4 linked regions of the Homo sapiens genome follow. The protein of the gene in region 2 interacts with the protein of the main gene of each other region in a pairwise test. Each region holds a gene or a part of one and is shown on either strand. Other genes may lie near its edges.

Region 1 (3,500 bases), on a different chromosome or scaffold from region 2:
GTATTTTTAGTAGAGATGGGGTTTCTCCATGATAGTGAGACTGGTCTCGAACTCCCGACCTCAGGTAATCTGCCCACCTCGGCCTCCCAAAGTGCTGGGATTTACAGGTGTGAGCCACTGCGCCTGGCCCCTGCCTGGAAATTCTTAAGAATTAAATATTATTTTCTTTGAGTAAGTAATAATGTCAGATGTCACAAAATTTAAAGGATATAGAAAGTTATGTTGTGCATAGTTATTCTACGTTCTCCTTTGTTCTCTAGCTACCCAGCTTCCTTTCACAGAGGGAAATGTGAATTCTTATGTATCCTATTTTGTGACGACACAAAAATATTTAAGGGTAGATGTGCTGGCCTTACTTTCTTGCTCAAATCTTCCAGGCTCTCCCTGGCTACCAGACTAAGTATATACAATTCTTGCTTCTGTGTCTTGCTCACATGGCTTTCTCATAGTAATAGTATGTTTAGTGGAAATCAAAAGCCAGTATTTTTAGGCCCCTGTAGGTGCAGGCCAGTGCACTTGGTGCAGCATAAGGCAAGTTCCTACCTTCAAGGACCTTATCTAATTGAGAGAGGCTGACATTTCCTTACTTTTATCTATTCCTCTTTTTTTTTTTTTTCCCCGAGATGGAGTTTCACTCTTATCACAAAGGCTGGCGTACAGTGGCGTGATGTTGGTTCACTGCAACCTCTGTCTCCCGGGTTCAAGTGATTCTCCTGTCTCAGCTTCCCAAGTAGCAGGGATTACAGGCATCTGCCACCACGCCCGGCTAAATTTTGTATTTTTAGTAGAGATGGGGTTTCATGATGTTGGCCAGACTGGTCTTGAACTCCTGACTGCAGATGATCCACCTGTCTCAGCCTCCCAGAATGCTGGGATTACAGGTGTGAGCCACCGCAGTGGCCAAGTTGAATTTCTTGTATAGATGTCTTATGTCTCAGTTTAAAAATGAGGCATGTCTTACTCTTGCCTATATATTTCCAGTGGGGCATGTCTTATCCTTTTTTATATATCTCCAGTTCTCAAAACCTTGTCTTACACAGCAAACATTAATCAGAGGTTAATCACTTATGGATTTAGTTTCACTCTACTGCCATCTCTCCAAAATGCTTACAGTAAAGAGGCTACACTTACTAAATTCAAACTTAGAACTTTGTAACTTAGGACCTGTCTGTTGGAGGAGGTAAGTTGCTTAAGCTTCTCCCTCTATTGGGCATTATATGTAGAGTGCTCTAGGTTCTGCCTGCTAGCTCCTTGATGACATTTGCCTGCTTTAGCAGGACACTGACTCTTCAGCTCAAGCAGCTGTTACCATGCTGGCTATTTCCTTTTGCATTCATAGGTTTTAGATATGGAAGAAAGTTATACCCAGAGAGAATGGGGGGATAAATGATAATCTTCTACCATTTTTGACCTTAGTCTGGTCCAGCATTATAGTGTGATTTTGAGAGGAGAGATTGTGATTTCCCTGGCTAGTATTATCTAGTATTGCCTGACAATGCAAAATGGACCCCTAGGCTGTCTTATGTAAGTTGGAAGGGGGCGGATTGGGGGTGGGGTGTGTGTGTGTGTATCTACAATCCAGTGACATTTAACAACATTCACAATGTCTTAAAACCATCGCCACTACTCGTTTCCAGAACCTTTTTGTTACCTCAAACAGAAACAGTACTCATTAAGCAAGAACTCCTCATTCCTCCCTATGCCCAGTTCCTCGTAACCCCTATTCTACTTTCTCTCTATGAATTTGCCTATTCCAGGTACCTCATGTAAGGGGAGTCATACACTATCTGGCCTTTTTTGTCTGGCTTATTTTACTTAGCACATTTTTGAGGTTTATCCATGTGGTGGTGGCATGTATCTGTATTTTATTCCTTTTTATGGCTGAATAATATTTCATTGTATGAATATATCATTTTGTTTATCTCCTCATCAGTGATGGACACTTGGATTATTTCCACCTTTTGGTTGTTGTAAATAATGCTGCAGTGAACATTGGTGTACAAATATCTGTTGGAGCCCCTGCTTTCAGTGCCTTAGGGTAATGCACAGGAGTAGAATTACTGGATCATATGGTAATTCTGTGTTTACTTTTTGAGGAACTGCCAAACTGTTTTGCACAGTGACTGCACCATTTTACATTTCCCACCAGCAAAGCACAAGGGTTCCAGTTTTGCCACATCTTTTCCAACACTTGTTATTTTTTCTTTTTTAATTTTTAAAGTAACAATCTTGGGCTGGGCACGGTGGCTCATGCCTGTAATCCCAGCACTTTGGGAGGCCGAGGCGGGCGGATCACCTGAGGTCAGGAGTTCGAGACCAGCCTGGCCAACATGGTGAAACCCCGTCTCTACTAAAAGTACAAAAAAAATTCGCTGGGCTTGTTGGCGCATGCCTGTAATCCCAGCTACTTGGGAGGTTGAGGCAGGAGAATCGCTTGAACTCGGGAGGCAGAGGTTGCAGTGAGCTGAGATTGCGCCATTGCACTCCACAAGAGTGAGACTTCGTCTCAAAAAATAAATAAATAAAATAACAACCCTAATGACTGTGAAGTGGTTGTAGGCTTTTTGCATTTTAAAAAATTATTATTTTTACTATTTTAGAGATGGCGGGGGGGGGGTCTCACTATGTTTACCAGGTTGGTCTCGAACTCCTGGCCTCCATTGATCCTCCCATTTTAGCCTCCTAAAGTACTGGGATTACAGGCTTGAGCCACTGCGCCCAGCCCTCCTTTTCTTCTTATTGCTACTTAGATGTAATGGGCAAACCAGAACCTTTGAATTTGGCTATATTTGGATCTGATGGGTTTTTTCCTCCCTCTTAAACTTGTGTATAATGTTGTTCAAAGGGATACATTATGTACACAATTAATGACATCTTTTTAAAAAGAACACTTTCTTTCATCCTTGTGAGGTGTAAGAAGAAAAATAAGCAAAAAAAAAAATGAATAAAGTTTTTCTATAAGTTGATACACACAGTTGTAGTTACTTTATACTCATACCCTTTTTTTGTGTTGTGAGTGACACAGTCTCACTCCATTGCCCAGGCTGGAGTGCAGTGGTGCGATCTCCACTCACCGTAGCCTTGACCTCCCAGGCACAAGCCATCTTCCCTCCTGAACCTGCTGAGTAGCTGGGACTACAGGTGTGTGCCACCACACTCAGCTAATTTTTGTATTTTTTGTAGAGATGGGGTTTTGCCATGTTGCCCAGGCTGATGTCGAAGTGCTGAGCTCAAGTGATTCTCCCGCCTTGGCCTCCCAAAATGCTGGGATTATAGGCATGAGCCACTGTGCCTGGCCTCTCATACTTTTTTATTCTATAATGTATTTAGGGCCAGCCTCTGTGGCTCATGCCTATAATCCCAGCACTTTGGGAGGCCAAGGAGGGAGGATTGCTTGAGGCCAGGAGTTCAAAACCAGCCTGGGCATCATAGTGAGACCCCATCTCTAAAACCAAAAAAACTAGTCAGGCATGTGGTATGCGCCTGTAGTCCCAGCTACT
Region 2 (3,206 bases):
TTGCGCAGCTGCTCCTGGGAGACGGCGCTGTCTGCCTTTGCGTGGCTCTCCCTCGTCTGGGCGGTCTTCTCATCCTTCCGGGCTGCGTGGTAGCTTTTCTTGGAAGCCTCAACCTGGCATGCATGGAGACCACTCTGGACCCTGGATGCCACACCTTGGCCCCCTCGATCCCTTGCAAACAAACAGGAAGGAGCCTGTCTCGGATACCTCCCCCACCCAGCCTCACCTCCTTCAGCCTCTTCAGCCAGGGCTTCTGGGCCTTGCGGAAGCCGTCCTCGGCCGCCCGGCTCTCGCGGAAGCCGCCCAGCACAGGCCGGTGGAAAGCCCCCCGCTGCCAGGCGCGCACCCGCTCACTGTCCTGCCCTTGCAGCTTCTCCCGCACCTCCAGGTGCAGCGCGCTCAGCCGCTCAGCCGCCGTGAAAAAGGCATGCCAGGCCTTCTCCAGTGTGCCATACTGGGGGCCTGCAGGGAGGGACAGGGCTTAGGCCAGGCCTGGGTACCACCCAAAATGAGCCTAGCCCCTCTCACTGGGTGTGAGGCATGGAGGCATGGGGTACGCGCATGGGGTGCAAAGGTGAATGACAACCCTGTCAGCTGGGCTTATTGAATGAGGACCATGTGCCTTATCTCACTGACTCCTTGTCTCAGCCACCATCGTGAGGACAGCGACATTGCCAACATTGAACAGGCAAAACACTGAGGACCAGAGATGTGAACTCGCCCAAAGCATTATGGCTACAACAGGAGCTGAGGGCCGGGCACAGTGGCTCACTCCTGTAATCCCAGCACTTTGGGAGGCCAAGGCGGGTGGATCACAAGGTCAGGAGATCGAGACCATCCTGGCTAACACGGTGAAACCCTGTCTCTACTAAAACTACAAAAAATTAGCCGGGCATGGTGGCGGGCGCCTGTAGTCCCAGCTACTTGGGAGGCTGAGACAGGAAAATCACTTGAACCCGAGAGGGGGAGACTGCAGTGAGCTGAGATCACGCCGCTGTACTCCAGCCTAGGTGACAGAGCGAGACTCTATCTCAAAAAAAAAGAAAAAAAAGAGGAGCTGAGATTCAAACCCATCTCTGTTGTGTAAACACTACACTCCATTGCCTCAAAGGAAGAGCCTGTGTGTGCCCTCGAGGAAGACAGCTTGCAGGGTGGAAAGATCCATGCTCCCAGTCAGAGGGCCTGGGCTCAACCTTCAGCACTTCCTAGCTGTGTGCCTTTAGGCAAGTCCCTTAGCCTCTCTGAGCTTCCAGTTTCTCCTCTAGAAAATGCATAAAACAGGCCCAGGTGCGGTGGCTCATGCCTGTAATCCAGGCCGGGCACGGTGGCTCACGCCTGTAATCTCAGCACTTTGGGAGGCCAAGGAGAAAGGACCGCTAGAGCCCAGGGGTTCAAAACCAGTCTGAGCAACATAGCAAAACCCTATCTCTACAAAAAATACAAAAATTAGCCAAGTGTGGTGGTCCATGCCTGTGATCCCAGCTATTGTGGTCCCAGCTATTCAGGAGGCTGAGGTGGGAGGATCAGTTGAGCGTGGGAGAGGGAGAGGTTGCAGTGATCCATGATTGTACCACTGCACTCCAGCCTGGTGACAGAGTGAGACCCTGTCTCAAAATAAATAAATAATAAACAAAGGAAAGAAGGCCAGATGCAGTGGCTCACGCCTGTAATCCCAGCACTTGGGGAGGCTGAGGTGGGTGGATTACCTGAGGTCAGGAGTTTGAGACCAGCCTGGCCAACATGGTAAAACCCCGTCTTTACTAAAAATACAAAATTAGCCAGGCGTGGTGGTGGGTGCCTGTAATCCCAGCTACTTGGGAGGCTGAAGCAGGAGAACCACTTGAGAGGCGGAGGTTGCAGTGAGCCAACATCATGTCACTGCACTCCAGCATGGGCAACAAGTGCAAAACGTCTCAAAAAAAAAAAAAAAAGAAAGGAAAGAAAATGGGTAAAACAACCATCTCCACAGGGTTGTTGCAACTATCAAAGTAACTCATGAGCATCCTTTATAAACTTTAATAACACCACAGCCATGAGGATGACCAGGAGGATCTTCCCTTTCTAAGGGAGGGTAGACGTGGAGGCCTCAAACTTCCCACGAGACGTGCAAAAAGAAGCTGGCCCGACAGTCCTGCACTCAGCTGCCCTCTGCCCCCTGCGAGGGCCTGGCTCACCCTTCTCCACGGTCCCCCTCCACTTTCGGGCCCAGTCAGCCAACTGCTGGGCATAAGCCTTCTCGATGCGGGCGCGCTCCTGGAAGCAGCTGACCAGGTCCCCGCACAGCCGGTGCCCGTCCTCCACCCGCTGTACCGTGCGCCTGTAGTTGCCAGCCTGGGCATACAGGAAAAGGGTGCCATCACCAGGGAGAAGCTTCCTTTGGGGCTGGGGCTGTCAGATGGGCTCCTCCCCTAGACAAGTAGCTGAGCCCAGGACCCAGCTGCTCACCTCCCAGAAACTGCCCCCTAAGGCCTCCCCTCCAGCGTCCTCTTCTGGAGCCATGGTGTCCCCGCAGCACGGAATGGTGGCGGATTTGGGGCTGTGGAGGGCAGAGGGGTAAGCAGGAAAGCTGGACATTATGTTTCTGGGGATAGGAAAAGACCCTCTCTATACCTGGGCCTCGCCCCACTGCCATCCCCACCACCCAAGGAGTCATCAGAGCTAGGACTTAGCAGGCAGGGTGCTGAAGACCCTAAGAAGGGCCAGGATGGGTGAGGATGGAGTCTCAAAGCTCTTCCTCTCACTGCTCTGCACTTCCCCCCCCGCCCCCCCACATACCTGGGGCCTAGAGATCACTTCAAGGACCCGGGTGTCCAACTCTCAATGCTGCCACCGTGACTCTGCCTTGAAGGAGAACAGAGCGGGGGTGAGGGTGGGGGCCTAGAGCGTCCAGGGCGGTGCCCGGCACCCCCAATATAGCAACTGCTGTCAGAAGCGCCGGATTCCAGGGAGGAGAATGCCAGGCAGGTCACACGATCCAGCCAGGGATTAAATGGCAGGCGGGGGTGGGCGGTGGGCAGAAGGCCCCACTCCCCCAACTGCCGATGAGAGGACTCCTGCCCAGGCTAGGGCCTCTGTTGCCTTCCCTTGAGTGACAAGACAACCCTGTTACCCGAGAGGCCAAGTCAGAGGGTGCCTGGCCACATCCCAGTAGCTCCCTGTACTGAGGAGGGCACGAAGGGAACCAAGAGGCCTGGCTTCTGTGTTGG
Region 3 (3,500 bases), on a different chromosome or scaffold from region 2:
CTGCTCAAAGACTCACAGTCGCCCAACACAGCCACTCAGCGCATCGTGCAGGATGTATCCTTCCTTCCTTCCGGGGCTGGGGGAGCCGGGTAGATGCGTGCAGTTTCCAAAGGCCAGAGAGAGAAAGAGAGGGACTGACTCCCCTAGTCCCCAGATTTTTTCTGCTGTGCGGAGGATCTGCCCTGGACAGAGAAGGATTACAATTCCTGGGTCCCATTTCCAGAGCTGCGGGGATTGTTATAGAAAATGATGAAAATTCCTAATGTTCATCGAACGCTAGCATCTACTCCATTAACTATTAAAGTAGGCCCTGGCCCAACGGGGTGGCTCATGCCTGTAATCGGAGCACTTTGGTAGGCCGAAGCAGGTAGATCGCTTGGGCCCAGGAGTTTGAGACCAGCCTGGGCAACATAGGGAGACCCCATCTCTACAAAAAATACAAAAAATAGCTAGGTGTGGTGGCATGCACATGTAGTCCCAGCTACTTGGGAGGATGAGGTGGGAGGATGGCTAGAGCCCAGGAGGTAGAGGTTGTGGTGAGCTGAGATTGTGCCACTGTACTCCAGCCACCCTGGGCGACAGAGCCAGACCCTGTCTCAAAGAAAAGATATATAGGCCAGGCGCGGTGGTTCACGCCTGCAATCCCAGCACTTTGGGAGGCCGAGGCGGACGGATCACCTGAGGTCAGGAGTTTTGAGACCAGCCTGGCCAACATGGAGAAACCCTGTCTCTACTAAAAATACAAAAATTAAGCCAGGTGTGGTGGCAGAAGCCTGTAATCTCAGCTAATTGGGAGGCTGAGGCAGGAGAATCGCTTGAACCTGGGAGGCGGAGGTTGCAGTGAGCGGAGATCGTGCCACTGCACTCCAGCCTAAGTGACAGAGTGAGACTCTGTCTGAAAATAAATAAATAAATATTTAAACCATGAGCATGACTCACCCCAAAATTTGGATTCCCTCTTTTAAAAAAAAAAAAAAAGTCTTCATGGCCTGTTAGTGGGGATCGCTGACTAGTAGCTGCCACTTTAAGAGGAGTGGGATTCTCCTTCCCTCTCCTGCTCTGGCTGGGTCTTCAGGAGTGGATGGGAAACTCAGACATTTCCACCCAACTCCTTGTATGATTTTTTTTTTTTTCAAGATGGAGTCTTGCTCTGTCGCCCAGACTGGAATGCAGAGGCGCAATCTCGGCTCACTGCAACCTTCACCTGCTGGGTTCAAGCGATTCCCCTGCGTCAGCCTCCCAAGTAGTTGGGAATAGAGGCACGCACACATCATGCCCGGATAATTTTTTTGTATGTTTAGTAGAGATGGGGTTTCACCACGCTGGCCAGGCTAGTCTCGAACTCCTGACCTTGTGATCCACCCGCCTTGACCTCCCAAAAAGTGCTGGGATTACAGGCGTGAGCCACCGCGCCCGGCCCCTTATATGAATTTGACGTGTCTGAGGTGCTCTGTGTCATTGTGGGCTTATTAGGGAGCGGGATCCCCCAGGAGCTGGCAGCCTGGTCCCAGTGGTCAGAGATAGTGTCAGGTACATAATGAGGGGACCTGGCTGGGGGAAGGCCTCTGTCTTCCAAGTCCCTTAACAGCCTGGCAGAAACTCAAACAACTCAATCAGTTTCCTGACTTCAACAACTACCTGATTTTCGTCCTGACCAGACTCAAGTCAGAAGGTACGCCCTCTGCTCCCTTCCATGCGATCGGGACCCTGCTTTCTCCCCCTGGGCCCCTGAACCTCAGCCTTCCTCCTCCCAGATGAGCCAACGCGCTCTCTCAGTGGCCTCATCCTCAAGAACAACGTGAAGGCACACTATCAGAGCTTCCCACCCCCTGTGGCAGACTTCATCAAACAGGAGTGTCTCAACAACATTGGCGATGCCTCCTCGCTCATCCGAGCCACCATTGGTGAGAGGGGCAGCGGGGGTTGGCCTCTGAGGACACACTGAACTCTCACTTCTCAGCATGTTAAGTGTAGTGCTTCATGGAATGCTCTGGCACCCTCTATGGTAGTACTATTACTATTGCCATTTGATAGATGAGGAAGCTGAGGCGCTGAGCTATTAAGGGACCTGTCTGGGTAAGCAGCAGAAGTCAGAAACAGCTGAGGCAGTGCAGGGCCACGCTCTGGAACCACTCCCTCCTGAAACAGTCCTTCTTGGCTCTGAGACAGTCATGCAACATCTAGAATTTTGTGTTCGGCCTTGGGCTGAGTGCTAAGGGTATAGCAGTTAAAATAATGCAGGTATTCATGTTTCAGGTGCAACGGAATTAGGTTTTCAGCAGAGCCTTTTCTGACTCTTGGAAGGTGGCCTGAGGAAGTTACAGAAAGATGACTAAGAATAGGCTCACGCCTGTAATCCCAGCAACTTTGGGAGGTCAGGGTAGGCAAATCACCAGAGGTTGAGTTCAATACCAGCCTGGCCAACATGGTGAAACCCCGTCTCTACTTAAAATACAAAAAACTTAGCTGGCCAGGCATGGTGGCTCACACCTGTAATCCCAGCATTTTGGGAGGCTGAGGTGGGCGGATCACAAGGTCAGGAAATCAAGACCATCCTGGCCAATGTGGTGAAACCCCATCTCTACTAAAAATAGAAAAAATTAGCTGGGCGTGGTGGCACTCGCCTGTGGTCCCAGCTACTCGGGAGGCTGAGGCAGGAGAATCACTTGAACCCAGGAGTTGGAGGTTACAGTGAGGCGAGATGGCGCCACTGCACTCCAGCCTGGCAATACAACGAGACTCCATCTCAAAAAAAAAAAAATTAGCTGGGCGTGGTGGTGAACATCTATAATCCCAGCTACTCAGGAGGCTGAGGCAGGAGAATTGCTTGAACCCAGGAGGCAGAGGTTGCAGTGAGCCGAGATTGCGGCACTACACTCCAGCCTGGGCAACAGAGCAAGACTCCATCTCAAAAAAAACTAAATAAAATAAAAACAAAAAAAATGACTTCTGGCTGGGTGTGGTAACTCACGCCTATAGTCCTAGCACTTTGGGAGGCCAAGGCAGGCGGATCACTTGAGATCAGGAGTTGGAGACTAGCCTGGCCTACATGGTGAAATTCCGTTTCTACTGAAAATACAAAAAATTACTTGGGAATTACAGCTGGTGGGCACCTGTAATCCCAGCTACTCGAGAGGCTGAGGCAGGAGAATTGCTTGAGCCCGGGAGGCAGAGGTTGCAGTAAGCCAAGATAATGCCACTGTACTCTATCCTGGGCAACAGACTGAGATTCCATCTCAAAAATAAAAAGTAACTTTTAGTCCTGCAAAAACCCCCTCCCAGGCCAGTAGTAGGATGTGGACTTCCTGAGCTCATTCTATGTGCCAGGCTCTTTGCTAAGTCATTGAAACTTACTGATCCAGGCTGAGCACAGTGGCTCACGCCTCTAATCCCAGCACCTTGGGAGGCTGAGGCAGGTGGATCACCTGAGGTCAGGAGTTCGAGACCAGCCTGGCCAACATGGTGAAACTCTATCTCTACTAAAAATACAAAAATTTGCT
Region 4 (3,500 bases), on a different chromosome or scaffold from region 2:
AATCTAGGGTCTGGGATCTTAAATAGAAGTTTAATTCTTGTGCTAGTGAGAATTCTAAAGATATCTCCCAATATTCTCATCTCTGGTTACTGAATCAATACTAATCTAGGTACTGCTGTGAAGGGACAGTGCAGATGTAATGAAGGTCACTAATCAGCTGACCTTAAAATAGGCAGATTGTCCTGGATTACCTGGGTGGGCCCAATGTAATCACATGAACCCTTAGAAGCAGAAAGAGGACTTACTTGCAAATAAGATAATCTTGTATTTGAAGAATTCACTAAAAAATTATTAGAACTAATAAATAATTCCTCAAGGTGGCAGGATACAGGATTAATATACCAAATTCAGTTGTATTTCTATATGCTAGTAATGACAATTTATATTTCTATAAATTAGTAATAACAAATTGAAAATAGAAATTAAGAAAATGGGCTAGGTGCGGTGGCTCATGCTTGTAATCCCAGCGCTTTGGGAGGCTGAGGTAGGAGGATTGCTGGAGGCTAGGAGTTTGAGAACAGCCTGGGCAACAGAGTGAGACCTCATCTGTACAAAAATGTTTTAAAAAAGAAAACGATTATATTAGCAATAGCATCAAGGAGAATAAAATATATGGAAATACATTTAACAAAAGAAGTGCAAAATTTGTACACTGAAAACTGCAAAAACACTGTTGATAGTAATTTCAGAAGACCTAAATAAATGGAAAGATGACTAATGATCATGGATTGGGAGACTTAATCTTGTTAAAATAGAAATACTTTGCAAATTAACACACTGATTTATTTTGCAGAAATTGACAAGATAATCCTAAAATTCTTAAGAAAATAAGAAGAACCAAGAATAGCCAAAACAATCTTGGGAAAAAAAAAAAAAAAAAAAAGATAAAGTTGGAGGACTAACACTTATTTCAAAAGTTACTACATAGATGCAGTAATCAAGACAATGTGGTATTGGTAGTAAGATAGATGTGCGGATAATTGGAATATAATTGAGGGTCCAGAAATAAACCTTCACACTGAGGGTTAATTGATTTTTAAGAAGTGTACTAAGACAATACAATGGGTGGAAAGAATAGTCTTTCAACAGATAGTCCTAGGACAACTGGATATCCACATGCATGGCAGTGAGGCTGAACCTCTTTTTTATATCATATGCAAAAATTAAGTGCAAATGGGCCTTGAATATAAATTTAACAGCTAAAACTATAAAACCCTTAAAATATTGGAGTAAATCTTCATTTCTTGGCTTAGGCAATGATTACTTAGATAGAACAAAAAAATACAAGCAATAAAAGAAATAGATAAATTGGACTTAATTAAAATGAAAATCTTGTGTGCTTCAAAAGACCACAAAAAATAAAAAGGCAACTGTGGAATGAAGAAAATATTTGCAAATCATGTATCTGATAAGGAGCTTAAATCCAGAGTATATGAAAAACTCTTACAATGCAATGATCTAAGGATAAATAACCAAATTTTAAAGTGGGAAAAGGATATGAATGGATGTTTCTTCAAAGAAGATATGCAAACCATCAATAATCCCATGGAGAGATGCTCAATATCATTAGCCATTAGGAAAATGCAACTCAAAAGCACAATGAGATGTCAGCCATACAACACCAAGATGATTTAAAAAAAGACAGAAAATAATCAGGGCTGACAAGAATGTGGAGAATTTGAGGATCTCATGCATTGCTGATGGGAATGTAACAGGGTACAGCTGCTGCAGAAAATGCTTTGGCAGTTCCTCAAAAGGTTAAACACAGAGCTACCATATAATCCAGCAACTCCACATTCACACAAAAACTAGCACATGTTTATAGCAGTATTTTTCTTAATAGTAAAAAAGTGGAAATAACCCAAGTATCCATGAACTACTGCATAGGTAATAAAGTGTTGTATAGTCACACAATGGAATATTATTCAGCAATGAAAACGAGTAAAGTACTGATATATGCTATAACATGGATAAGCCTTGATAATATTACGTTAAATGAAAGAAGGGAGTCATATACAAAATGGAATGTTGCATGATTCTGTTTATATGAAATGTCTGGAAGAGGAGGATCTATAGATAAAGAGTAGATTAATATTTGCCAAGGTCTGGGGGAAGGGGGGACTGGGTTTCATTTTGAGATGATAAAAATATATTGATTGGAGTGATGGTTATGCAACTCTGTGAATATACAAAAAAACCATTAAATTGTACTCATAAAATGCGTAAATTGAATGGCAGGTAGATTTTATCTCAGAAAAACCTGTTTTAAAAAGCAGAAGAGGAAGTCAGAGAAAGGAAGTAGACAAGAAAGAAAGAGAGATCTGGCAGAAGGACAATTTAGATAGAGGAGTCCAAGAGTAGAAGGATTTGACAACAGCCAGCCAGCAGGGACATGGGGACCACAGTCCTACAACAGAAAGGAACTGGATTCTATGAAACAACCCGAAAGAATCTGGAAGCAAGTTCCTCTTCAGAGCCCCTGGAGGAGAATGCAGCCCTGCCAGCATGTTGCTTTCAGTCTTGTGAGACCCAGAACAGGGGAACTAGTTGAGCCATGCTGTGCCCAGACTTCTGATTGCATCCACTGTGCGATAATAAATGGTCAAGCTGCCAAATCTGTGGGGATGTGACATCACAGCAATGGAAAACAAATGCAATTATTTGGGTCTTTACTGTGAAGGGTGGGGCCTCAAGAAGTGACACCACTCTCTGTATATTGTCTTAAAATGTGACACTATCACAGTAAAAGCAACTGCAATGTGAAATTTTGTGCTAAAGCTGACACCATCATTTTTGAAATTCTAGTTCATTCGATCAGGTTTAGGTGTGAGAATTTAGGTAAAATGTATAGTCAAGAAAATTCTGTGGGTTCATATTCCCCCAGCCACCTCCTCCCCAAGTGAATTGGCCAAGACTGCCCTTTTTTTTTTTTTTTTTTGGTCATTTTTCCATTCCTGAAATGGAGCCAGGAGACCAGGTTACAGACCATTGGTACTGCACAACATTTGAGGGTGGGGTTCTTATCTGATAGGATTAGTGTTCTTATAAGAAGAGACACCAGAGAGTTCTCTCTCTCTCTTTCTCTGGGTTTCTCCCTCTCTCTCCCCACCCGTCCCCAAATGCACACACTGAGGAAAGGCCATGTGAGCACACAGGGAGAGGGTAGTCATTTGCATCCCAAGGGGATAGTTCTCGCCAACCCTACTGGCACTTTGGTCTTGGACTTCTGGTCTTCAGAGTCATGAGAAAATAAACCTCTGTTGTTTGAGCCATCCAGTTTATGGCATATTGTTATGGCAACACTAGAAGACTAACACAGGCACCTATCAAAGGCTCTGGGTCTGAACACTAGACTGGCAGGAATGGACACCAGTCTGCAACAGATGCACTCACACACAATGGTCATTATAGGAATTCTGGAATGTGCTCCTCCGCATTAAAATCTGCAGCCGGCATCATGTTATGTGTAAGCACAGACATGACTCTTGATCTTGCATTCT

What was found. Proteins that work in one complex are often made in the same cells at the same time.
Region 1: the proteins of PACSIN3 (region 2) and RAF1 interact in a two-hybrid assay, tested with the Homo sapiens proteins (one study listed by BioGRID).
Region 3: the proteins of PACSIN3 (region 2) and TNPO2 interact in binary tests that used the Homo sapiens proteins (3 or more experiments, as listed by UniProt).
Region 4: the proteins of PACSIN3 (region 2) and CLNK interact in a two-hybrid assay, tested with the Homo sapiens proteins (one large-scale study listed by BioGRID and IntAct).

The regions. Positions count from the first base shown.
Region 1 is NC_000003.12:12,654,118-12,657,617, reverse strand, and holds part of RAF1 (RAF proto-oncogene serine/threonine-protein kinase), read left to right. Parts: intron 1-3,500. UniProt on the Homo sapiens protein: Serine/threonine-protein kinase that acts as a regulatory link between the membrane-associated Ras GTPases and the MAPK/ERK cascade, and this critical regulatory link functions as a switch determining cell fate decisions including proliferation, differentiation, apoptosis, survival and oncogenic transformation.
Region 2 is NC_000011.10:47,180,229-47,183,434, forward strand, and holds part of PACSIN3 (protein kinase C and casein kinase substrate in neurons protein 3), read right to left. Parts: intron 2,842-3,206; 5' UTR 2,776-2,841; intron 2,582-2,775; exon of another isoform or gene 2,575-2,581; coding exon of another isoform or gene 2,500-2,574; coding exon 2,446-2,499; intron 2,332-2,445; coding exon 2,175-2,331; intron 463-2,174; coding exon 227-462; intron 114-226; coding exon 1-113.
Region 3 is NC_000019.10:12,717,433-12,720,932, reverse strand, and holds part of TNPO2 (transportin-2), read left to right. Parts: coding exon 1-54; intron 55-1,596; coding exon 1,597-1,672; intron 1,673-1,754; coding exon 1,755-1,904; intron 1,905-3,500. UniProt on the Homo sapiens protein: Probably functions in nuclear protein import as nuclear transport receptor. Serves as receptor for nuclear localization signals (NLS) in cargo substrates.
Region 4 is NC_000004.12:10,566,269-10,569,768, forward strand, and holds part of CLNK (cytokine-dependent hematopoietic cell linker), read right to left. Parts: intron 1-3,500. UniProt on the Homo sapiens protein: An adapter protein which plays a role in the regulation of immunoreceptor signaling, including PLC-gamma-mediated B-cell antigen receptor (BCR) signaling and FC-epsilon R1-mediated mast cell degranulation.